2 linked regions of the Homo sapiens genome follow. The protein of the gene in region 1 interacts with the protein of each later gene in a pairwise test. Each region holds a gene or a part of one and is shown on either strand. Other genes may lie near its edges.

The links.
Region 2: the proteins of KDM5B (region 1) and PAX9 interact in a two-hybrid assay, tested with the Homo sapiens proteins (one study listed by BioGRID).

Annotation. Positions count from the first base shown.
Region 1 is NC_000001.11:202,734,164-202,742,423, reverse strand, and holds part of KDM5B (lysine-specific demethylase 5B), read left to right. Parts: coding exon 1-33; intron 34-701; coding exon 702-1,057; intron 1,058-1,611; coding exon 1,612-1,750; intron 1,751-6,031; coding exon 6,032-6,211; intron 6,212-6,836; coding exon 6,837-6,995; intron 6,996-8,260. UniProt on the Homo sapiens protein: Histone demethylase that demethylates 'Lys-4' of histone H3, thereby playing a central role in histone code. Does not demethylate histone H3 'Lys-9' or H3 'Lys-27'. Demethylates trimethylated, dimethylated and monomethylated H3 'Lys-4'.
Region 2 is NC_000014.9:36,667,162-36,683,898, forward strand, and holds the end of PAX9 (paired box protein Pax-9), read left to right. Parts: intron 1-9,036; coding exon 9,037-9,291; 3' UTR 9,292-11,322; coding exon of another isoform or gene 11,323-11,323; 3' UTR 11,324-12,201; downstream 12,202-16,737. Other genes in the region: SLC25A21 (mitochondrial 2-oxodicarboxylate carrier), read right to left, coding at 13,497-13,558, 16,667-16,719. UniProt on the Homo sapiens protein: Transcription factor required for normal development of thymus, parathyroid glands, ultimobranchial bodies, teeth, skeletal elements of skull and larynx as well as distal limbs.

The sequences.
Region 1 (8,260 bases):
CCATGTGTCCTCAGTCAGACACCATTACTAAAGGTAACCATAGAGGGATGTGTGGGAGAATACTTTGGTAATCCTGTATTTTGTATATAAACTCTATTGATATTACTAAGTAATCTTCTTTGATGATTAATATGTACATTTATTTGCAGATGCTTTTAATAACCTATTGAGTGGTATATGTATATAAAGAGATTATAGTAGATCCACAGAGGGGAAATAAAGTTGGAAATTTTTACTTTGAAAGTGACCTTGGCTGGGCATGGTGGCTCACACCTGTAACCCCAGCACTTTGGGAGGCTGAGGAGGTGGATCATGAGGTCAGGAGTTCAAGACCAGCCTGACCAATATGGTGAAACCCCATCTCTACTAAAAATAGAAAAATTAGCCGGGCATGGTGGTGCATGCCTGTAGTCCCAGCTACTTGGGAGGCTGAAGCAGGAGAATCGCTTGAACCCAAGAGGCGGAGGTTGCAGAAAAAAAAAAAAAGAGAAAGTGACCTCAGCTAGTTTAAGCTGGGATAAGGTGTCTGTTATAGTCACTTAGTATTTGCTGTTAGTTGGCTTATGTGTTATCTTATTTACCTATATTATTACTAAAATTAAATGGGATCTCATTGAATATGAATTTAAGATTCTAAGTTTGAAAGAAGCCAATTACTGAAATTACTGTTTTAATGCAACAACCTGTGTATTTTTTTTTAGGATCTCTTGAATCGTGTAGAAGATTTTCAACAGCATAGTCAGAAACTACTCTCTGAGGAAACGCCTAGTGCTGCGGAGCTGCAGGACTTGCTAGATGTCAGCTTTGAATTTGATGTTGAACTTCCACAGCTTGCTGAGATGCGTATCCGTTTGGAACAAGCCCGTTGGCTAGAAGAGGTGCAGCAAGCTTGCCTAGACCCCAGCTCCCTTACTTTAGATGATATGAGACGTCTCATAGACCTAGGGGTAGGGCTGGCCCCGTATTCAGCAGTGGAGAAAGCTATGGCCCGGCTGCAGGAACTGCTCACAGTGTCAGAGCACTGGGACGACAAAGCCAAGAGTCTCCTCAAGGCCAGGTGAAAAAGCAGACTTCTCTTTCTTTGGGAAGGTTGGACAGTTATCTCCAGCTTAAACACAGAGCACAATGATTGGTCTATGGCAAGTGCTCAGTAGCTGCGGTTATTATGCATGTGGAAGACATGTAGAAATAGCTGAGATATTTGGAGCTGCTTTGGGACCTGAGTAAAAGAATGTTAATTTTTTCTTATTTTACTGATTAAAAATGAATAATTCAATTGGACACACCTTTTCTAGAGTTGGTTTAATGAAATTTCCCTGGATCCTGTTAATATCGTGTCTTTGAGAGAGGAAAATATTTACAAATAGGTGAAGCTGTTTAAACTCACAGTTAATACGGTTCCAAGGAGTCTTAAAGAGAAATGTGTGAGAGTTAATAGGCACTGTTCTGCAAGAAAACAGTGCAGATAATTTTCAACAGGAATAGACAATGTCATTTGAAAAAAATTATTTGCCATACTGAATTTCCTTTGAAATGCTAGTTTTTTTGGTAACCATAAGAAAAATGAACCATCATATAAAATGCTAAGAAGTCTTTGTTTGCATTTTGTAGGCCACGACATTCATTGAATAGCCTTGCTACGGCAGTAAAGGAAATCGAAGAGATCCCTGCATATCTGCCCAATGGTGCGGCTCTGAAAGACTCAGTGCAGAGAGCCAGAGACTGGCTTCAGGATGTAGAGGGCCTGCAGGTTGGTTTTAAAAAGTATATACAGAATGTGTAAGTGCATCCATAAAGAGCAATATTGGCGCCCCGTCCGGGAGGGAGGTGGGGGGGTCAGCCCCCGACCCGGCCAGCCGCCCCGTCCGGGAGGTGAGGGGCGCCTCTGCCCAGCCGCCCCTACTGGGAAGTGAGGAGCCCCTCTGCCCGGCCAGCCGCCCCGTCCGGGAGGGAGGTGAGGGGGTCAGCCCCCCGCCCGGCCAGCCGCCCCGTCCGGGAGGGAGGTGGGGGGGTCAGACCCCCACCCGGCCGGCTGCCCTGTCCGGGAGGGAGGTGGGGGGGTCAGCCCCCCGCCCGGCCGGCCACCCCGTCCGGGAGGTGAGGGGCGCCTCTGCCCGGCCGCCCCTACTGGAAAGTGAGGAGCCCCTCTGCCCGGCCAGCCGCCCCGTCCGGGAGGGAGGCGGGAGGGTCAGCCCCCAACCCGGCCAGCCGCCCCGTCCGGGAGGTGAGGGGCGCCTCTGCCCGGCCGCCCCTACTGGGAAGTGAGGAGCCCCTCTGCCCGGCCAGCCGCCCCGTCCGGGAGGGAGGTGGGGGGGGTCAGCCCCATGCCCGGCCAGCCGCCCCGTCCGGGAGGTGAGGGGCGCCTCTGCCCGGCTGCCCCTACTGGGATGTGAGGAGCTCCTCTGCCCGGCCACCACCCCGTCTGGGAGGTGTACCCAACAGCTCATTGAGAACGGGCCGGGATGACAATGGCGGTTTTGTGGAATAGAAAGGGGGGAAAGGTGGGGAAAAGATTGAGAAATCGGATGGTTGCCGTGTCTGTGTAGAAAGAAGTAGACATGGGAGACTTTTCATTTTGTTCTGTACCAAGAAAAATTCTTCTGCCTTGGGATCCTGTTGATCGGTGACCTTACCCCCAACCCTGTGCTCTCTGAAACATGTGCTGTGTCCACTCAGGGTTAAATGGATTAAGGGCGGTGCAAGATGTGCTTTGTTTAACAGATGCTTGAAGGCAGCATGCTCATTAAGAATCATCACCACTCCCTAATCTCAAGTACCCAGGGACACAAACACTGCCGAAGGCCGCAGGGTCCTCTGCCTAGGAAAACCAGAGACCTTTGTTCACTTGTTTATCTGCTGACGTTCCCTCCACTATTGTCCTATGACCCTGCCAACTCCCCCTCTGCGAGAAACACCCAAGAATGATCAATAAAAAATAAATAAATAAATAAAAATAAAAATAAAAAAGGCAAAAAAAAAAAAGAGCAATATTGGAAAGTTGTGAAGAATAATACGTTGGATCTTGCTGCACAGTTTCAGTATTTTAGGGGTTGACCAGAAGACTAATTCTATTCATACTTATTTGGATGTACTTACCAGCTATTATCCTGACCAGTTGTCTCAAATATTTAAAGCTTAGACAGTGTCACCAACTTTTTCTGGGAGCTGGGGAGTCTTTCATAACAAACTTGAGTACTTGACTGCAGATTGAAGCAAAAGAGCTAACAATGAAGTAGTGAGAGAAAGTAGTTTTCTACTCTTTGATAAGTATGATTACCTCTTGTTGGCTTGTCCACAACTTTGAAGTTCAGACAATCAGTAATAGCAAATTCAGTGAATCTAGTTATATGACTAAATGCCCAGCTAAGCCCCAAGGCCCAGAATTTTCATGAAGTAGTGACTTAAAAGTACCCTCCCAACCCTACAAAAGAAATAAAACCTACCCAGTTCCAAAGTAATTATCCAAAGTATCCAAAGTCATTTCCACCAAGTATTTGTGGTTTTATGCTAGATGTTATACTTATTGACCTGTATATAAGTTTAAAAAAAGAATTAAATTCACTTGTAGCATTGTTAAGGTACAAAAAGAATTCATTCTTTAATATGATTTTCCCAGTTTTCAGACGACTGGCTGAATGACTTAATTTGAAACGTGTTTGATGGGGGATGTCTTCCCTTATCTCTTATCATCATAAACCAATAGGTGTTACTGACCTATTGAGAAAAAAAAAAGTCTCAAGTTCTATTTTGTTGAAGTCCTCAAATTCTAGAAATAAAATACGATCTGGCTTTCTGAATATTTGTGTAATTTTAAGTGGTGTTAATTGGCTAATTGCTAACAAGAAATACCAAACAGGACAATTCTAGACAAATGTTTGCATCTGTTCTTGTTAATAGGGAAAAGAAGATATATTGTTTGAGGAGATTACATAATTAAGGACTGACTCCAGCAAGCCAAAAACAAAAACAAAAGTATTTACTATGGACATAAACTTTGTTAATGAGAGTTTTAGATGCAGGCACTTGTCAATGATAGTTGGTATTGTAGTAATTAGTTTTAGTTATGGTCCTCCTTTTTACTCCATGATTGCTAGCAGCCAGAAGGTGAAGTCATGGCAGTAAGGAGAGGCTGACATATAAAATCAGAAAGCAAGGGCATGCTTCTGGATGAGTTTATTTCCTTCATATTTTATATGTATATGCTACTTACTATGTTTGTAACAGTGCCATTAAGGGCAAAAGGCAAGTTTTTTGCTTCATTCCTGAAAAAGTAGCCTACCTTTTTTTTGCATCATATATTTAAGGACTGCTACACATGACTAACAACAAGGAACTACTTCCTATTTAGTGGATTATTTAAATGTTATGCAGTATTCTGCTTTACACATAGGAAGCACTCGGATTTCTAAATTAAATATCATAGGAATAGCATTAATTTATGAGTCACATTCTTAAGTGTCCATCAGAACATTTATGCCCTAACAGATTTAATTCTGTAAGAATAAATATCAAAGGCAGCAAAATATCAACCTACCCAGTCTTCCCTAGTTGTCCCAAAAATGTCCCTTATGGCTGTTTGTCTAACCCAGAAACACATGTTGCACCTAATTGTCATCTCTTTAAGTTTCTTTTAATCTTGTAGCGTTTTCCTCCCCACCCCACTTTTTCTCATGTCACTGACTAGACAGTTATCCCATGGTATGCTCCACCTTCTGGATTTGTTTGATTGTTTCTTTGTGGAGTGTTCTGTTCTCTGTATTTCCTATAAATTGGAAGTTAGTTTTAAAGCCCTGGTGCATCCAAGTTAAACATTTTTTTAATATAATGCATTAAAATGTCAGGTAATACTGTATATTCTATATTGCATCACAACAGGAGATATATCTGGATGACCTACCATTAGTGATGCTAAGTTTTACATTGTATTGGAGCAACACCAATGCATTTCATCCTCCATAACCTTAATGCTTTTACTCTCCTAGTTTGGCTATCTCTTTCTAAAAATACAGTTCCCAGACCAGCAGTATTAGCATCGGCAACAGCAGCTTTACCTGGGAACTTGTTAGAAGTGCAAATTTATGGACCTTCCTCTGACCCACTGAATTAGAATATTTGGGGATAGGACTAAGGAAACTGTGTTTAAACAAGCCTTCCAGATGATTCTTATACATGGTAAAGTTAGAGAACCACTGGGCTGTCTCAACTTATATTTTAGTTTCCTGAATAATTTATATTGAGTTGCTTTAATTAATCATTGGTGAGTGGATTGGGGTAAAATATTGTTTTGTTGCCTTTTATTTGTGTAATTCAGTATGAAAGTCTTGAGTTACTACAAACCTTCATTTCTGTTGAAATTTTTTTCAAACTGTTAATAGGAACCAATGAGATGAATGAATTTAGAAGGGTATAAATAGAACAAAGGGACCACAGTATATGCCATGTTCACATTTGTATCCTTAGAGCCTAGCACAAACTAGGTTCTCTAGGCCCAGCACAGTGGCTCACTGTAATCCCAGCACTTTGGGAGGCCAAGGTGGGAGGATTGCTTGAGGCCAGGAGTTTGAGACCAGCCTGGCCAACATGGTGAAACACCATCTCTACTAAAAATATAAAAATTAGTTGGGCGTGGTGATGGGTGCCTGTAATCCCAGCTACCCGGGAGGCTGAGGCAGGAGAATTGCTTGAACCCAGGAGGTAGAGGTTGCAGTGAGCTGAGATTGCACCACTGCATTGCAGCCCAGGCAAGAGTGATACTCCGTCTTAAAAAAAGAAAAAAAAAACAACACTACCACCACCACCACCAACAAAAGACCCAAACTAGGTTCTCTGTTTGTGTAATGAAGGAACAAATGTCACTTCTACCCCCAATATCATTGGTCAGCTGGCAGGTTAGTCAGCGTTTGTGAATTTAGCATGTTGAGATCATGGAGTAATCTGAAGTACTCAATGGACCAATCTGAATTAAGCTTTTCCTGTTTTTCATAGAAGTGTTCTTTTCTCTAAACTGCTGTAATTTTTCTTGACTTATTAGGCTGGAGGACGTGTGCCAGTGTTAGACACACTCATAGAACTTGTTACACGAGGCCGATCTATCCCCGTACATCTGAATTCTTTGCCAAGACTGGAAACCCTAGTAGCTGAGGTTCAGGCTTGGAAAGAATGTGCTGTTAATACATTCTTGACTGAGAATTCTCCATATTCTCTCTTAGAGGTAAGTTTACAACCAGCTCATCTGCAAGACCTTAGATCTCCTAGTTTGGTAAAACATGCAGTTCATCACATACAAAGATGACATCACAGATTAATCTATATTCTGTGAGTTGTTCTTCCCGTAAAGCCAGGGAGACTCTTCTAATTTTCTGGTGAAGCAACCTTTAAATGTTTTCTTGGTTGATTTAGCATAACAGTATCTAAAGAAGAAAATTTTTTCCTATTGGGTGAAATTCCTCTGTGTTGAAATTGGACTCTTAAACTTGGCCGTGCTTCGCCCACCTGAATTTAGTAAGCCTGATAAATGATCTCCCCCATTTTTTAAAAGTGCTTTAACTGCACTTTTTGTATTTTCTGTAAACTTGCTTGTGCATCATGACTGGGATCAACCAGTATATATCACATTTTTAACTTGTTACTTAATTGAATAAGGAATCAGTCTATCTTTTATGAGTCTTCCTCCTCCTTTTGTAAAGGAGAGCCTCAGGGTTGCATGTTCCAAAGAAAATCTTCAATACTAAGAAATGCACATCCTTTTTACTGCTTAGGCTTTTATTTTGGGACTTCCTACATAATGCTTTATCTGAAATTTATTTTACCATTGGTTGTGCCTTGTCCCACATTAGGTGCTGTGTCCTCGATGTGATATTGGCCTTTTGGGATTGAAAAGGAAGCAGAGAAAGTTAAAGGAGCCCTTGCCAAATGGAAAGAAAAAAAGCACCAAATTAGAGAGTCTGAGTGACCTGGAGAGAGCTTTAACTGAAAGCAAGGAGACTGCTTCAGCTGTATGTAGGGTTTTTTTCTTCTCCTTTCTATGTTATTGGGAAGAATAATTTCTAACCCTTTCTGTTTTATAGGAATTTGGAGAAGGCAAGTAGAGTAACTTGAAAGCGTTCAGTTTTACTAAAAAGACTTTTTGAAAATTGTCAAGTGTTAAGAGTTTTGAATGGTAAGATGCATAGAGGTGGGAAAGATTCAGGGTAGGCTTCCCAGTCTCAGGGTCTTGCAGGCACAGAAACAGTCTTGTTTAGTGCCTGTGGGTTGATCCAGGAATGCTAACTAAAGATATTGAGACTAATATTAATAGATGTATGAAAATGCAATGCTAATTTATTAGTTTATAGTTAAGAAGTACATTTAAAAGTTTACTGGATACTTTGATACTCATCTGGAATACCTTACATCTCTGACCTGCATTTAGTAAATACTGTTGATTCAAAGATGATAGTTTAAAGAAGATGAGGCAATGTATAACTAATGTTACACATTAAGCACCTTATCGGGATAAAAAAGGGATAGCTATGTGATGCTTTTAATGGCACAAAGCATTGCCCGTTCTAGAGTGGGAATGTATACCTGCTACTGGGACTAGATTGAATGGGTTCATCTGTGGATCTGGACACCTTCTCCCATTGATTTCTTTGTAGCTGCCAGACCTCTTGTGATAGACATGGGTTGCCTTGATTTATTTAGGTATTTTGACACAGATGTTCTTAGTGTATATTCGTATATTCAGTCAGGTTCTAGACAGAATTCTGCCATCAGAGGTCCTCCATTCCATCTGTGGTTTGTTTTTATAAAGACTAACTGAAAGTTACAGTCCCCCTCTCCTGAGGTGTATATATGTTGGTTTGAAACTTTATATGCAGTATCTTTTGTAGATTTTAGTCTGTCCATCTGTCTGTAGACCCCTGGTTTTAAGAATTCTCCCTACGTATTATCTGTTAATTTATGGTAGAACTCAAAGGTTAGTCATTTGCTTTCCATCTCTAAGCTGTCAGAAGTTACCTTGTTATCATATAACCCACACATATTACCTGTGTATTATATTTACAAAAGAAGTGGATTTTTTTTTTTTTTTAATATACCCAAAGGTCTTTACCTGATTTGCTTTTAGGCTTTTTTTTTTTTTTTTTAATAGAGATAATGGAGAGTTTATTCTGGCCTTGTAAGGGTGCTTCATCTGGTGAATCGTGATGGATCTGAAAGGGGATAGATGTGGTGATTGGAAATGGTTTTTTAACTGTGACAGATTTTTTGAGAACTTGTT
Region 2 (16,737 bases), on another chromosome or scaffold:
AACGTAACAAAGCTACCATTTTCTCGACTAAAGGTCACATTGTAATCTCCCAAGGAAGTTAGTGAGAAAACCTCAAATTATACGGACTGGCTGTGGACCGTTTAATTTTTCTTTCCCTCCGTCCCTCCCTCATGTCTCCAAAGGAAAATTTAAAACACTCGTGTTTTTATTTTCCCCCCGAGAAAAGCTAAACAACCACCACAACAAAAGCCCCAGATTTAAGTCTAAATTCATCACCGTCCTGGAGTCAAGAGTTCAAAACTCTCAAAAAACCGGACCTTAAGGCAATGTAAGGTTTCCCCAGCAGACCCCAGTAGGTTTGCAAATCTCTTAATCCCAAACTCAATTCCAAAGCCTCAAGCTATTCAGTTTTCCTTTTATTATTTTGAAGACTTAAAATTTTTAATGCTTTTTTGTCTGTCAAAATCAGCTTTTAAAATTAAGTGGAATTTGTTCCTCTTATTCACTTGAAAAAACATCTTAGTCATTATTTTCTGTAACAAATCCCATTTCCACTTCCTCTTCCCTCTCTTATTTTGTTGAAATAGAATCAGAATACATATTAGTGGCTCTCCAATGGCAAATAACACAGAAAATAGCAAGGAAAGAGAGCCCTTTTCCTTAGTCTGTTTCTACTGTGAAGAATGTCAATGAGAAATGATAAGGAAGTTTGTCATTTTCTTTTACTAAACGACCCACCCTTAATTCGTAATTTGCAAAGAAAAGGCAGAATAGTACAATGGTTAGGAGCTCCGATCTCTGGCTGTACGACTTCTTAGGAAAATATTTAATTTTTAGTCTCTATTTCTTCATCTTTAAAACAGGGAAATGATATTCCCAACCCAGAGATGTTATGAGTATTCAATGAGATAATGCAACCATATGGCACATAGTAAGCATTTATTAAGTATTGTCTGTGGTTCTAAGTGGCAGTTAAAAAGACACGTGTAAAAGTAAGTAATATTTATCAGAGTATACTTTGTTCTGAGAGACCATAGTCAAAAAGCTTCAAGAGATTTTGTTACAAACAATAGAAAGAGTGTATATAAAGCACCTACCATAGAAGCAAGCATTTAATAGGCGCTCAGTGCTTTTTATTAGGTCATCATTGATTGGAATAACATTGTGAAGTATAGAGTTGAAAAAGTTTCTAATTCCCACATGTCATTGATGAACCCAGTTTATATATCAAGCAGTCATAATCCCAAAAAAAACCCTTTATACTTATTATTTATTTATTTATTTTGAGACGGAGTCTAGCTCTGTCGCCAGGTTGGAGTGCAGTGGCGCGATCTCTACTTATTGCAGCCTCTGCCTCCCGGGTTCAAGCGGTTCTCCTGCCTCAGCCTCCTGAGTAGCTGGGATTACAGGCACGCGCCGCCACACCCACCTAATTTTTGTGTTTTTAGTAGAGAGAGGGTTTCACCATGTTGGCCTGGCTGGTCTTGATCTCCTGACCTCGTGATCCACCCACCTCGGCCTCCCAAAGTGCTGGGATTACAGGCGTGAGCCACCGTGCCGGCCAGTAATTTTTATTTTCTCTTCCTTGAATTATAGATCTAACATTGAAATTTGTTTGGAAATGCTTAATTTATAATACACTTCAAAACTAAACTGACAAATTATTTAAAATAAAAAATTTGAAGTTTTAAATAATTGATATTCTGATTATTAAAAATAGATTACATTTTATATACTAAATTTTAAATCACTAAATTATCACATTTATAAAAGAATATAATTTAAAGAAATAAGTAACCAAATAAATATTGCTCTAAATACTTAATAAGCTATTTTTTCCAGAATAAAAATATTTATATGAAACTTACATTTGCGAAGTTCTTAATTGCAATATGCTAATCTTCTGCATTGCAATGTATTTAATAGTTAGATAATTCAAATGATGTAAAATTTCAAAACCTGAAAAGTTTCTAAGAATAATATAAATTAGTGGCTACTCTATGATAATTATCAAAATAGTGCTTAATGTTGAAGATGTGCCAAGTTCAGCCGTGCCATTTTTCTGAGCAGTTTTGAACTTTAGACATTGATTTCATGTAAGGTTAAATTGCACATTAATACTTGTTTATAAACATACAAAGGTAAAGTGTTGCCCATATATGTGCATTTCTCTTACCAATATTCAAAGGGCAGATTTATTTTTAAAAGTTATTTTTCAAAATGGAATCAGCATATTTCAACCAAAATGTAAACTCTGGTAACACGTATTTTTCCCTCTGCTTATATTATGGACAATAACTTGAATGTCTTTGGCCAAAAAAAAGCTTTAAAATTTTTCCCACTTTCAGGGCATTTGTGATTGTTATTAAATAGTGCAAAATTATATGATACTAGTTTAATTTTATTATACAAAGAAGGAAATTGAGAATTCAGAATCATAGAGCTTAAAGCATATTTTTCTTGAGGACATCTGTAGAATTACCAAAGGGCTAAACTATGCAACTGAGTATAGATACTATTGATTACCATAATCTAGAGTTTCTATTTTCAGCTTAAACTGTAAAGACAGATGTCCTGATTCCTAGTAATTAAAACTGTATGCACATTTCAGCTATGCATATACCTATCTTTTGTCTTTGAAAATTCAGTGTAGAATATTCTAACTTGTCTTACATATTAATATTACATTGTAATTAATATTTTGCAGTGCCATTCAGAAGTCCTTATTGTCTCTGAGGATAGAATATTTATTTTGGCTTTTTTATACCCACAGTTAATATTGGGGCTAGAAGTACTTAATTCCATTTACTTCTGAATGGCAACAATGTTCTCTGCTTCCTGATGGCCGGTTCTCTTCTGTTGAAAGCATAAAACTCCAATGGAATAAAATTGAGTGGCCAAAAAACCTTATATAGAGAATCATAGGGACTGGAATACATTTGCCCTTTTAGGAAGTATTTCATGAATTAATGCCTCAATTTTATTCAAACTATATATAAATAATTGTATAGTTCTTGAAAAATTTTCTACAAATGGGCATACTGTCTCAAGAAAGATACATTGCATATCTGATACTCTAAAGTAATTGGAGTGACAGATTTATAAGCTTTGGGTATCTTCATTTTGGGGTTGCAGATATTAATTTGGCAAGTTTAATATAACACTAGCTACAGACTGAGATGTCAGAAATAGAGAATAGTCTATAAATACTTGAACTTTTTAAAAGTTCAGAATTAAGTTGTGAAAATAGTTGAATTTAAAGATATAATCTGAAATTCTTATGAAGCATTTACTTGCACATGCATTTGAAGTGAAGATAGTCTTCTAGAATCCTGAATGTGATTTTCTAGTGTATTATTTTAAAAACTGGCTGTCCTTGTGGATGTACTATTCTCAGGAAGATATAAATGATATTGCACTAAATTTGTCTTCATATTAAAGTTAATTTTTGTAAATAAGTTATGATTTATAGACAATGAAATCTTAGGCAAATGCCAGCAGAGTGTCTTTGAAATTCATAATGTTATCTGTTATGAAAAACATTCTTTGACCTGGTTACATTTTAACCAGTAGTATTTCAAAATAAAATTAATGATCATGTATCAGTAAAATGTATTGTATAAAATAGCAGGGAAAGGTAATTGCAAATTTTTCAAGGCTATGTCAATTTTAATAATATTTTGGAAAATTATAAAATTTAGAAAAGCTTTTAAATAGCGGCTTTCCATTTCTTAGAGACATTTACATCTACAATATGATAAGTAAGCATAATTAAGATCTTGTTGGATGAATGTTGAAACCATATTTATAACCATCATTTCATTTTGTCAGGTATGTTTTACTAGGTCATTGCATAATGCATTAAAAATGGAAGAATGACAGAAAAATGAGTTCACCAAAAAAGAGAAAATCTTGTTTATTTTCAGATCCAAAACTTTTTCTTGCTTATGATATCGAGGTTGAAATTCTAGGTGAAGCACATCTCTATTTGTGGCTAAATCTACTTTATTATAAAGCCAAGGTAAATTCATTTTATCATAAGAGGACCAGGTTGAACTGATAAGTGAAAGCAGATTGTGGGTAGAGGACCTGGCACTGTTATTTGCATTTATCTTCACGATAAATAATGTTGAGTAGACAATTCCCAGAATTTGAATAATGGTCTATAACCTCTAACTGCCAGACATTTGCCATACCAGTTTTATGGTGGTCACAAGTGTTTTGATACTAACGTATTTTCCTTTACTTGGAGGAGGGAGGATAAATGGAATAACCATAAATCAAGTAATAAATGGCTAGGTTAGAACTTCTGTTTACTTTTTTCAACAGCTTTATTCATTTTGCTTGCTTAAAGTGTAATGCTTGTTTTGTGATAAACGGTGCCTACATTTTTGCTTTGTTTTTTAAGCTACAGTGTCACATCTTTTGCTTTCACAAACCTATACTAACTTAAATATACATATGGTTGTGGAATGCTTATGATGTATCCTGTTTTGTGGGGATACAAGATGATTAAGGCAAGTCCCTGTCCTCAGACAGTTTACAATCTAGCCCTCTGCCAATACAGTTCCTCAACATATTCACCAAAGTTACTTTTAAAAAATTGGTAAATCTGTATTTTGAACATTTGGAACAAACGAAATTAAAACTTGTACTTTCATTCTTCTTGTGATAACCTTAACTAGAAGAACTACATTGCATCTTATATATTTTTTTCTAGACTATTTCCGTTAATGTCAGTGTGATGAAGTTGGTCTTTTCCTAAAAGTATTAAAACAAAGCAGTAACTTACTTTTTCTAGGGTATGCAATTTAGTCTATTTTGCTTTGTATTAGTAAATCTCCTTCTCAAATTTAGGTAGAAGATAGTTTGCTATAGAGAGCACCCTTGCACAGTTCTTTCAGGGGAAAGAATTCTCATGCCTTTCATGGAAGATCCACATGAGAAAGGAGTTGATGGATTGAAGTCTTATTTATGGAATCTTTAGGTAAAGTCATTTTCAAAAATGAGATTTCCATTACATGCCCATTGCTGGGGTTTCATTTGGAAAATTTGTTTACTCTTCCCTGGGGATTCCGTATGTTGGTTGATTTATAAATCATATTTACAATCCAATTAAATAGAGTAATTTAGCATGTTTGCTCCCACTATATTTATAGTGTAGATTTGGTAGTCTCTACTCAGCCTAACTAGCTTTTCAGATTAATTACATGCCCTTCACTGAAAACATTAAACCGATTTGGGACGTTTAAGTCATGTACTCTTTTACTGGAAAGAATAAACAAACATCAATGCTACCTGTAGTTGTTTTCCTTTGCGGTGGAAAATTTTACTTTTTCAGTGATTGCTTCATAAATAACAATTACTTGACCCAGTAGAGATTTATATCTTTTACTAATGTTATGTGTCAAAATTAATAGTGAGAAAATTGATGTGTTTATTGAGTCACTAAAATGAATAAATAATGAAGGTGGCAGGAGGCAGGTAAATTTTAAAGCACATTTACTTGCTCCTTTTTTTTCTAAATTTATAAATCTGAGCTTCAAAAGTAAAAAGTAAAATTAAGACAAAACTCTCCAGACCCCCAAGCTAGGGTCATAATTTAACCTGAGAGAAAACTAAGGGCTATTTTTATACTGTTTAAGTTTAAAGATTTATGTTTGTTTTTTTTTTTAAGCAAACGTTTTAGCCTCTCCTTGCCTTTTTCTTTTTTCTTTCTTTCTTTCTTCCTTTTTTTTTTTTTTTTTTTTTTTTTTTTTTGAGATGAAGTCTCACTCTTGTTGCCCAGGCTGGAGTGCAATGATGCGATCTCGGCTCACTGCAACTTCCGACTCCCGGGTTCAAGCAATTTTCCTGCCTCAGACTCCCAAGTAGCTGGGATTACAGGCACCTGCCACCACACCCGGCTAATTTTTGCGTTTTTAGTAGAGACGGGGTTTCACTATGTTGGCCAGGCTGGTCTTGAACTCCTGACCTCAGGCAATCCGCCCGCCTCAGCCTGCCAAAGTGCTGGGATTACAGGCGTGAGCCACCGTGCCCGGCCGCCTTTTTCTATGAGATGAAATCAACCATCTCCGAGCTTCTCTTCCTACCCTGTCTTTCTGCAGTACAAAGGGATTGCATCACTAAAATGATACTAAATAAATATTGTGGATTTAAGAGAACTTTGAAATATTTAGTACTAAGAATAATGACATAAAGCAAGTTTGTGCATTAAGTATGAGAAGTTGGACAAACATGGAAAAATTTGCTCATTTTTTTACACTTGATAAATGAATGTAATCATGGAATAAATAAGGCACTAGAAGTTAATACAGGCCTAAATCCAATGTCCTGCCTGCCCCTAAATTCCAGGAACATTATCTAAGATAAAAGTTCAATGCAGCATGTCTCTGAGGGCCATCTTCCAAGTGGGTCCATGTAAGGGGACCATAGACATTGCAACAAAACAACTGAAGAGTCCAAGTAAATGGGGCAGATCAATGAGCAAGAGTTCCAAGGGCAAAGGTGTAAGAAAAGGGAAGATGACTAAGCAAGGATTTCAGAGAGAACTGTAATTTTGAATGATAGATAAAATACAAAGAAAAAAGAATGGGTAGGAAAAATTTAGCTGTGATGAAAAATAGAACTCGCCAACAGTTCTGTTCTGCTAACTAGAACATTGTTTCTGCCATGTATAATATTAAATTTTTTAACTTTATGTCCCTATATGATGTTGGCCAAAGATTTTTATTATTTTAGAAGTAATTTTAATGTTAGCATTCTTATTTCATTATTCTTAGTTCACATTGGCATCAGTAGTATAAAACATTAGTCAATGCTGGAAATGAAAATATTAGTTAACACCACATACAGATGTGAACACCTTTCCATAACTGAATTGGATTTATTTCTTTCCAAACTCATTTATCATAGATTATTGGGACAATTCTAAATAAAAATGATTAAAACTATAATCTCTATGCAAAACTAGATTTTTTCCCCTGTAATTTGATAGTTCTCTATCTTGATACCCATCTCCTGAGAGCCTTAAAGTGTGTCTCCTTTGAGACATAATCAGCCATTCTCAAAAAGTGGAAGAAACTATTCTTTTTTTAGAAGGGATCTGACAATGAGAATCATGTTCTAGGAGAGAAAAGAATTTGTTACCAGATGTTATCTCAAAAGATGCACTAGTTTTAAATTAAATTGCATCTATCTTTTAAGTGTTCAGGAAAAACAGTATGATATGCTACAGAGGACCCTGCATTGGGCAGGGGTGATAAATTTTTTTAACACATGGCCACTGGCTTGCCAATTGGTTGAGGGTACATGGCTAAACCTCTTAATCTATATCCTTGTATAAAAAGAGGATAAGATTTCATTTGTATTCAACAGTTATGTGCGGTAGTTTCTTGATTTAAAAAATGCAGCAGCATCATTCTCTGGGACCCTTAAAATACACTTTAATTTCAGTTGAACATTGTGTTGTATTTGTGACACACTATCTTGTAATTATGATAAACTCAATCATTTATAATGAACTATATAATTCATTAATACTCATTACTCAGTAAAATATGTTGGATATTTCTTGGTGCCTGGGACATAGGACACACTTAAGAAACTTTAGCTTCCTTTCTCTTTCCCTATTTTCAAAGAACCAACATTGAAAAACACAACATGAGGTGTTTGTTCTTACAGAGCATAGACACAAGGCTAACCCCTCTAATATTTTTCTTTTTTTGTCAGAAATGCATGAGTAATGTTGTCATACCCACGTATGTATTCTATTCCATGTACATATTCATTTACTCTGCATTGAGAAAATAGTTTTTGAGACCGCACCACTGCATTCTCATAGATGTAGAAGTGAAAACAATAGCCCAAATAAATTAAATTAGAAAGTAATTCCTGTGTTGCAATTGAACGGGAAAAAGTACCTAGCTAACATACATCTGATTAACTTAATTCTAAGGATTAAATCAATTTTCCTCATAAAATTCTAGTATTTACATCGTATTTTCACTAGGAAATATATTGAAATGGTAGTTCATTCATGTAACTATCAGGACACAGCATCTACACTTTATTTCTAAAGAGTATAAAAATTGAGGGGAAAAAATTAGACTACTTGAAGAAGGATGCCCAGTGTTCATGCCAGAATCAGGATTAAAAATCAGGGTGTTTTTAGTGTTGTTAATAGTAACGATACCAACAATAATTCACTGGATGCCAAGACAGCACTGGTTTCTCGGCAGGCTCGCCTGCCGGGACTGCTGCATTGTGTTTGCAAACAAAGATTTTAATTTCTAAATTCACTTCAAGAGATTTATCCACGTGGCTTTTAAAAACTCACATCACAGGACCCAAAAACTTTGCAAGCAAAATTTCCAGTTTCAAAACCAGGCATATGCAGTTCTTTTATATGGGGAAAGACAGTTTCCTTTCTGATAAAACAGTCCTGGAAAAGGCACTTGCAATATTCATTTAAAAATCCTTACAAGACAAAGTGCCTGATTTTTGTATGTCCTTTGTCCAACGGGCATTTTCAATATGATCTCTTAAAATATGGTCTATATTTTCTTTAACGAAGGTCGTGTTTGTTGTGCGTTTCTAACATGACAGGCTGCAGTCTGTGCCCTTCTTTACTGAAAATGAAAGTTATACCAACCAGGCCTGTCACAAGTGCCTCAACAAAAGAGCCAAACAAAACCCAAGTCCCAGGAAGGTTGACAAAGGCAATGAGGACAGCCGAACAGATTCTAAGAGTATTTAATTGCCATTAATTCTTTTCTCACCCTGCACCTCCTTCCTGTACTTCCAAGTGGCACAAGCAAATACTACGAATTTTCTGGTTGCAGCTTTCTCTAAATGTTTGTGGAAAGAATAATATCTTGTCATTATGTTTGTTTAAGTGGCAAGACTGTGAATGTCTTTAGAATATAATAAAGCTCAAATTTTTTTAAAAAGTTGGAGAGTAGAGTCAGAGCATTGCTGGCTTACTCAGACTTAAGTTCTGCTTCTTTCTAAGAACGTGTGAAATGTTCACTCCTATAATGTGATTATTTTTCACTTCTTTTCTACTCCTCTCAGGCACCAAATGGTCTCCCAGCTGTGGGCAGTTTTGTGTCAGCATCCAGCATGGCTCCTTACCCTACCCCAGCCCAAGTGTCGCCTTACATGACCTACAGTGCTGCTCCTTCTGGTTATGTTGCTGGACATGGGTGGCAACATGCTGGGGGCACCTCATTGTCTCCCCACAACTGTGACATTCCGGCATCGCTGGCGTTCAAGGGAATGCAGGCAGCCAGAGAAGGTAGTCATTCTGTCACGGCTTCCGCGCTCTGATGGGAAATTCCGTCTCCAGCAGCTTCACCCGGGTCTCCCTGTCTCAGCACCTCCTCCCCCAATTCCCAGGTCTCACATCCCACCCCTCCTGCCCTCCAACCCTTCTGCCTTGAAAGCTGGCTGTACGGACTCACATCCTTTGTGCTAATGACACTTACATATTTCTTGCCATAACTTTTCTCTTGCAGAAAAACTGACATGACTTTAGGATTTAAAAACAAGAGCAACAATAAGCATTGAATGAGACATTTGTGTTGCCCACATACTGTCTTAACATAACAAAGAAACCTACACCCCTCAAAGGGTTTAAGGAACTTTACAAACTAGTCTTTGGTAAAACCACATGTGTATATTTATTCTAAATCAACCTGAACTTTTGAAATGTGCAATTGTTGAGATTTTGCAAAATCAATAAAGGAAAATACTTATAGAAAAAATTATGCTACACCCTCTAATCAAATATGGTAACCAAGTAAGCTTTAATTCATCATTAGGAAACAAATCAATAAGTGACTTGTTTGAGTGATCCTTTGTTTAAGACATGACCTATTTTGTTGAAAAATATATGTAGAACCCAAGCAATATCTGAATCTAGCTCTCCCTGGTGTTTTGACTTGGTTCCAAATACAATAATGTTTATATTTTCTATTAGTTTGTAAATACGGACTCTGGATGGTGCATTTGTGTCTTCATTCCATAAGATATTCCCCTCCCCTCAGCCCCACCCCCTCTCTATTTTTTTCTTTCTTTTTTGCAAAGGTGACTTTCTGGCAACGTCTTTGTCTCTGTTTGGTGGTGGGCTGCTCGGGCTCCTGGACCTGGACTTGCCCCCAAATTTTGTGTATGCAGTGAAGGCTTCAACATCTCATGAAGGACACTTTATTTCTACAGCAGAGGACACGAAAAACAGATAAAACAAGCCAGTCTCCCATTTTGTACCTAATCAAACAACACACATGCTAAGCATATAAAGACAAGAGGGTGGAAAATATCTGAACAAGAAGGCTCTAAAGGAAGTCACTTAGAAACTTAAGTTTAATGTGAAATGTTTTGCAAAGATGCTTAAAATGAACTTTGTGTTAAGAAAACCACTGTGAAACTAAATTGTCCTATTATTGTTGGCTTACCTGTGTGTTCAGCAATCTCAGCCCCAAATAATGTTGTAATTTAAAGAAAATGGAAAATTCTGCTCTAATGAATGTAACAATGGCTTGCTGTGAAGTTTACATTGTTGTACAGAAGCATGTTTCGCATGTAGGTAAACTGGTGGTGGTACTAGAAATACAATGTTATTTAATTTTAACAAATTCCCTTTATTCATTTCTGAAATTACAGGACACAGTTTAACTCATAAACCTTTCTAGACCAATTTATTTTTCACTTTAATGTTAATAACAGTTGTGGAGTATATGTGTGTGTGAGCATGTGAGTATGTGTTGTATTTTAAAACAATTGATTTTCTGGGGCAAAATTCTACAGTTTTTAATCCCTTCTGTTTAGGAAGTTCTTCCTGTTTGGCAATATAGGCTTAAAAATATGTTTTTAGGACATTGGTACAATTCAGCTGTTGGAAAATTAATATATTGAGGGTTTTTTGGTACTAATTCTGTGCAATAACTAAAAGAGCACCTCACTGGATATGGATGTTGAAGATGGATTCCCTAGGTGATTTTAATTTCTTCCGGTCTGTGCTGTGCACAGTCTACATGGCAATGCGGTTCCACCACATCGGTTTCGTGGCTTCGTTTAAAACTCAGATGGCTAGATTAGTTAGGTTTTCAAATCACTAGGATGTAAACAGTAAGCAGATTTCTGACACACAAATTATGTTAGAGTGACTGCTTTTTTCAGACAGCAGATATCTTATAGAGAGCTTTGAACTGCATTTATTTCTAAAGCAACCGAAATTCAGTGCTACAAATAGAGGATTATAACTTCAGGAGAAGAATAAGCAGAAGGAGCAGATGAACTCTCAGGGCCATAGTCTTCCTTTGATCTTGTAAAACTTCCATTGACATCTGGAGTTCCCAGTCTGGTGAGAAAATAGACTATAAACTGAATGGAACAAAGATCCAATCCAATATTTTGGTGGAGACTTCTTTAAAACCATACCATACAGGGACTCTCCTGTCATCTGAAAAACTGATGTAAGGTACAGAACTATTCTTTATCAAATGTTTTTAGGTGGCTGTTAGGGGGCTTTAAAAAATATTACTTGCTTGTGTGGAAATGCAAATAATGTTATTTTCTTTATCTAAATTAAGAAATCTCTTGTTATTGTGCTATTTATAATTTTTTTCTGGTTCTTGTATTTTAAAAAATCTAATATTAATGGTATTGAAGTTTCCTTTTCTCCCTCTAGGTCTTAACAGTGAATTCACATGGAGTAATTTTTAAAAGATATCAGATACAATTTGCTATTCAAAGAAAATTATGATTTAAAGCCACTTTTTAAAATACGAGAAGGAAAATAGGATGGATTAAAGGGTTAACTTTTAAAGATTATTATTGGTTAATGTTGACATATTTCCTCTATCTCATAGATGGTAAAAGTGTTGCTTTTAAACTGGCAAATGCACTCTTCAGAAATCCTTTTCTATCTGATCCACATGGAGAGGTTAAAGGTTCAATTTCATGACCTCTATGCAGGCAGCGCTCTCATTGGATGTAAGAATATTACCTGCAAGGATAGAATGCAGTTGTGCAACAGAGACACATTCTTATTTCTTTTTTTTCACAATTTTGTTTTGTTTTTAATGACCCTTTTATTGAATATTGGACTGAAATATAAATTTTAAAAAACACGTTGGAAAGGATGTACAACAGAAGGCTATGTATGTATATACAGTATGTCAAAAGCCTTTTATTTTTATACTTCAAATGCTCTAAATTAATAAAAAGTAATAATTACCATGTTATCTTTTACTTTTTATTTTCAAAATGCTTTAGTGAAATAGCCCCGTAGTAGAAATAGCCCACGGTAGTAACTTAGGACAGGTGTCATATGGACTTTCAGTTATTCTTGTTGACTTTACTGAATCAGCATCATCTCTGGATGCAGATATAAAATCAAGTTTGGTTACATCAAGACCAAGGAGATATTTTTGTTGATACATGTTAGTATAGTAATCCTTAGAAATGCTAAGTGTATTTCTTTTTCAGAACATTTCCCCTTCATCATACATATTTTAATACTGCAGACAGCTGACTTCCCACCTGAAGTTGTCGTTTAAAACTAATAACCTGAAAATGCAGTTCTGTTCTATACATTCTTCCTAAAAATGGCACAGGTAGGCATGCTGAATAAAGGTATTTGGATGCAAATACTGATGGCTGACAAATGGGTCCAAAGGTGTTTCCAATTTGTGATTTAACATGACAATATCTCATCAACAAAACTTATCTTCAAAGAGAACTATGTGGAGGAAAGTAAATTTTATTTCATGTTTCCTACTTGTGTTAGAAGAGATTTGGAATACCTTGATTTAAACATGCTTAAACAACAGTGTTTTAACATTCTGTTTTAAACAATGTTTTAAAATACCTATTTATTATCTTACAGCAATATGAGATATAAAGTAGATGTAGGAAAATAGAGCTGATATGTGCATAGTTACTAAAAAAAACCAACAGATTTACATTTTAACATAGTATTCATAAAATTAAACATTCTTAAAAGGTCATTTTAGTGCACTTTAAAAAATTTTTCTTGTGCTCTTTAAATATTATTTATGGAATAATTTAATTCATTATAAAAACTGCTTAAATTTTGGCTTAACTTTTTTTTAATCCAGTCTTTGAATAATTTGATTTATTTTCAATAGTTTAAGCATTTCTAGACCTCTTAGGAAAAATGCTGATCAATACAATGAATTTTCATTGTGAAGCATTGAAGAGGAACACAGGAGACAAAGTTTCTATTTATTTTATGAAATAAATATATGATTTCTATGCTATTTTTCTATATTCACTTTAAATACCTCATTGTTTCATATTATTTTTTTCTTCTCACAGTTTTATTTATACAGCCAAAACTATAATCTCAAGTTGCCTATAGACATTTTTTAAAGTATTAAAATAGATTTTGTTCTTGAACAGTTTTCTCCTTCATAATTATACACCTGGCCGATCGATAGTCTCTCTTCTTCATGGTGCTGCATAGCAAATATCCATTATCTCAAGGGGGAAAAACACTTCATAGGCAATCACCAGTTCTCTTGAAGCCATGAATAGGTGTATTCATAAACCAGCAGCATCACTGCACCACCTAGAAAAGAAAAGAGCTGTTTTTTATTGCAAATCCTCTGGAATAGCACTGGCTTTCCCACTGGGTTTCTGAATCCATGATGTCTCGCACAGCCTGTCAGGCAGAGGCTGTTCGGAATCAACAGTTCTGGAGCTTCAATACCAAGATATAAACTACTGTGGAAAATTCTCAGGATAAAATCAAGACCATCTTGAGTCTCCAAATACATTTTTCCCCATGAGTTTTTGCAACTTTCATCATTTGTCATCAGATTCTTTTTCAAGCACTTTCAATTTTTAAAAGTAAATAAATATAGGCATATTTAGTCATGTAAGGGCATGTGGCTTTCCTGTGAACAGAAACCTTCAGATTCTTCATGTGTAGATAAAGGATTTATCTTTTTCAGTCCGTAATTAGCAGTCTTAATTGCATTCAAGAAGAAAATCTCTAAGATGGTGCTTGATGGATGAGTCTAGTTTTCTGTCATAGCTTTCAAACTGCATTGCTACGTGGAAATTAGATTCTGAATATTTAAAAAATCTGCATTGCAAAACCTAACAAAAGGAGGTTGAAAGCTAACCTTCATTCCTTTTATCTGCTTCAGTTGTATATGGATTTGAACTTGAAAATTTGGTAGTGGGGGTTGGATGGCATGAGACCACCATTTGTCTTGGAAGAAAAGAGCTACATAACTGGCTGTGAAGAGACATGCTCTGTATTATGTCAACAGGAATGTGATACAGAAAAGCAGGCACTGAGGCTGCTGAATACCTAGCCACTGGGAGAAGCATTTGTACATGGATCATTTTATGTTCTATTTGATGCAGTAAATAGCATGTGTCCTGTGCCCTTCAGGATAATCTCTTTTTATCCTTTTATGTCTAACTGTGTGAAAAACATCACAAAATCAAAATTTGGACAAATATCCTGAACACAACTTAGAGAAGACTTGGCTGCATGAAATAGAAGATTGACTTCTGATGGAAAGAAATAGAACTTGATTTGGGTCTTAGTTATTTTGAACACACTGCCATATACTTTTTTTTTTAATCTATAGGCTGCACATGTTTGTGTAACCATATACCAAAGATAATTATCTGCCTGTAATTTTCATTTTTAACCCATGAAGATACTCTATTAGTCCCTCTTAGCTTCTCTAGGCCTCTTGGAACTCTGGCAAACAAAAAGAGCTGCACTACAGAGGGTCATTAATGTGTAGGTAATCGCTGCATTTATTCTTACTAATCATTCACAATGTAAGACAAGAATATGCAGAGTTGGGTTAGTTTTTGGCCTAGTAACAGTTGAGGTTTAAATCACAGACTTCAAGATTCTTTCATGGAAGGTACCTGATTGTTAGCCACATTGAGCTGCTAAGGCTATTGTAAAAATGCTGGATGCTTCTCCAGAACAAAGAACAAAAATTCCAGGCTCACCTTTCTTTTCTTTTTTTTACTGTCTCTCTCTCATTCTTTTTTTTTTTCTCTCTCTCTCATTCTTTAAAGAAAAAAATTTCACCCTTCATTCAAAAGTCTTAATCTTTAACTCAGTGGTACCTTTCTTTCTAGGTTTCTTTGCTTTGAAGTCGCTGGGATGCACACATTTGGAATGAAGTGGAGGGCAGGTCTGTGAGTGGTTCCCAGATATTCACAGTTTGGCTTAGCCTGGACAGTCAGTTCACAAGAACCCTTTTCTTTGAGTCTAACACCACAGCAACTCAGGACCTCTCACGCAAAACATTTAAAAAGCCAGCCAAACATTTGCAAGCCTCTAACAAAACTTGGGGTCAGATTATTTAAGAGTTTTGGATGAAGGTTCCAGTCAATTACCATTTTAGCTAACCTCTCCCTTGTCATCACCCTTTTTAGGCCCATCCCTTTCTGAGAATGTTGGTTGAGGGCTGGTGCTGTGATTTCCTCTCATATTAGGTCTACTAGCAGGTTTTTACTCTGCGGTGAAGGAAAAACACCACATACTGGCAGAGATGCACAAAATTCCCCACGTTCTATTACTGCGTTAGCTTTTACACATGGGCCAATAACTAACGGAAGGTAGGTCTGAATCCCAAATATGAAACAAAATCCATGTGTAAAGGCCTATAAAGATTGGGATAGATGGGTTGGGAATTGTGGAAGTGTTTCCTAAATATATGAAAGTGTGAGCTGTTCACCAGCTTCAATTTACAGACTCTTGTTCTCTATCTTAGATTAATAGAAATGTTGGTTCATTGGGCTGAGATCTAAAGGTGAATGTGCATGTGTGTTTGTGTAGCAGGGTAGGAGGACAATAGTGTTAAAAGGGAGGAACTGCAAAGGGAGAGAGGGGAGGTGTAGGAGAAGGTTCTAGGAAATATTACCAGTATGTATAAGTAGGTGAGTGTAGCCTGATAAAAAAAATATATGTGTGGTCTAGAGTATACTTTTGTACTTATTCACAAGGTTGCTTATAATCTGAGACTATTTGCCCTGGCGGTTGAGTCTGCAGAAGTTATTTTCTTATCTATTTACATAGAGGCAGCCGATTCTCCCTGTGGGAATGGCAGCCGGTTTTTTTGTGGGTAGGCGTCCTGAAGTGAGGCCCTGAGCCAGAAGCCTCCAGCGTCATGCTGACAAAGCCCAGGAGAGGTAAGCAGCTAGTTACGGTGTCACCACTCCCCAGAGGTGACTGTAAAGATGAGTGGCTTTGCTGTTCATGGAGGCAAGCTGTCCTCCTTTTCTTTTTTTGAAATGAAGTTGAGGCAGGAGCAAGAATGAATTAGGAGCACGAGGAAACGTTTGACTGGGCTGGTCCCTCACTCAGTGAAAAGCCTCCCCTTCAGCCAGAAGCCACTGCACACACCTCGGCTCTCACTCAAACTCCAACTGCCTGTGGCTTCTTCCTATTGACTTAAGCTGGGTTTTGGCTTCTGTTAGCCTCCAGCAAGTTCATAAATAGTACTTAATAAACAAAGGTAGAACATTTCTAATGGATGTCTTCAGTATCTCAAATACTCATAGACAACTTTATATTCTCAAGGTTTCTGTCTTTTACAAAGTGGTAAATATTTTGTTGCTGATGGACACAAATATCAAAAAAAGAGACGCTAGAACAATAAAGAAGGAAGGATTAAATAATCAAAATTATCATTACCTGGTCCAAGTCTCATAATCTTGGGAAGCAGGCCTTTGTACAAAGCTAAAATCCTGTAATGGGAAGGGAAA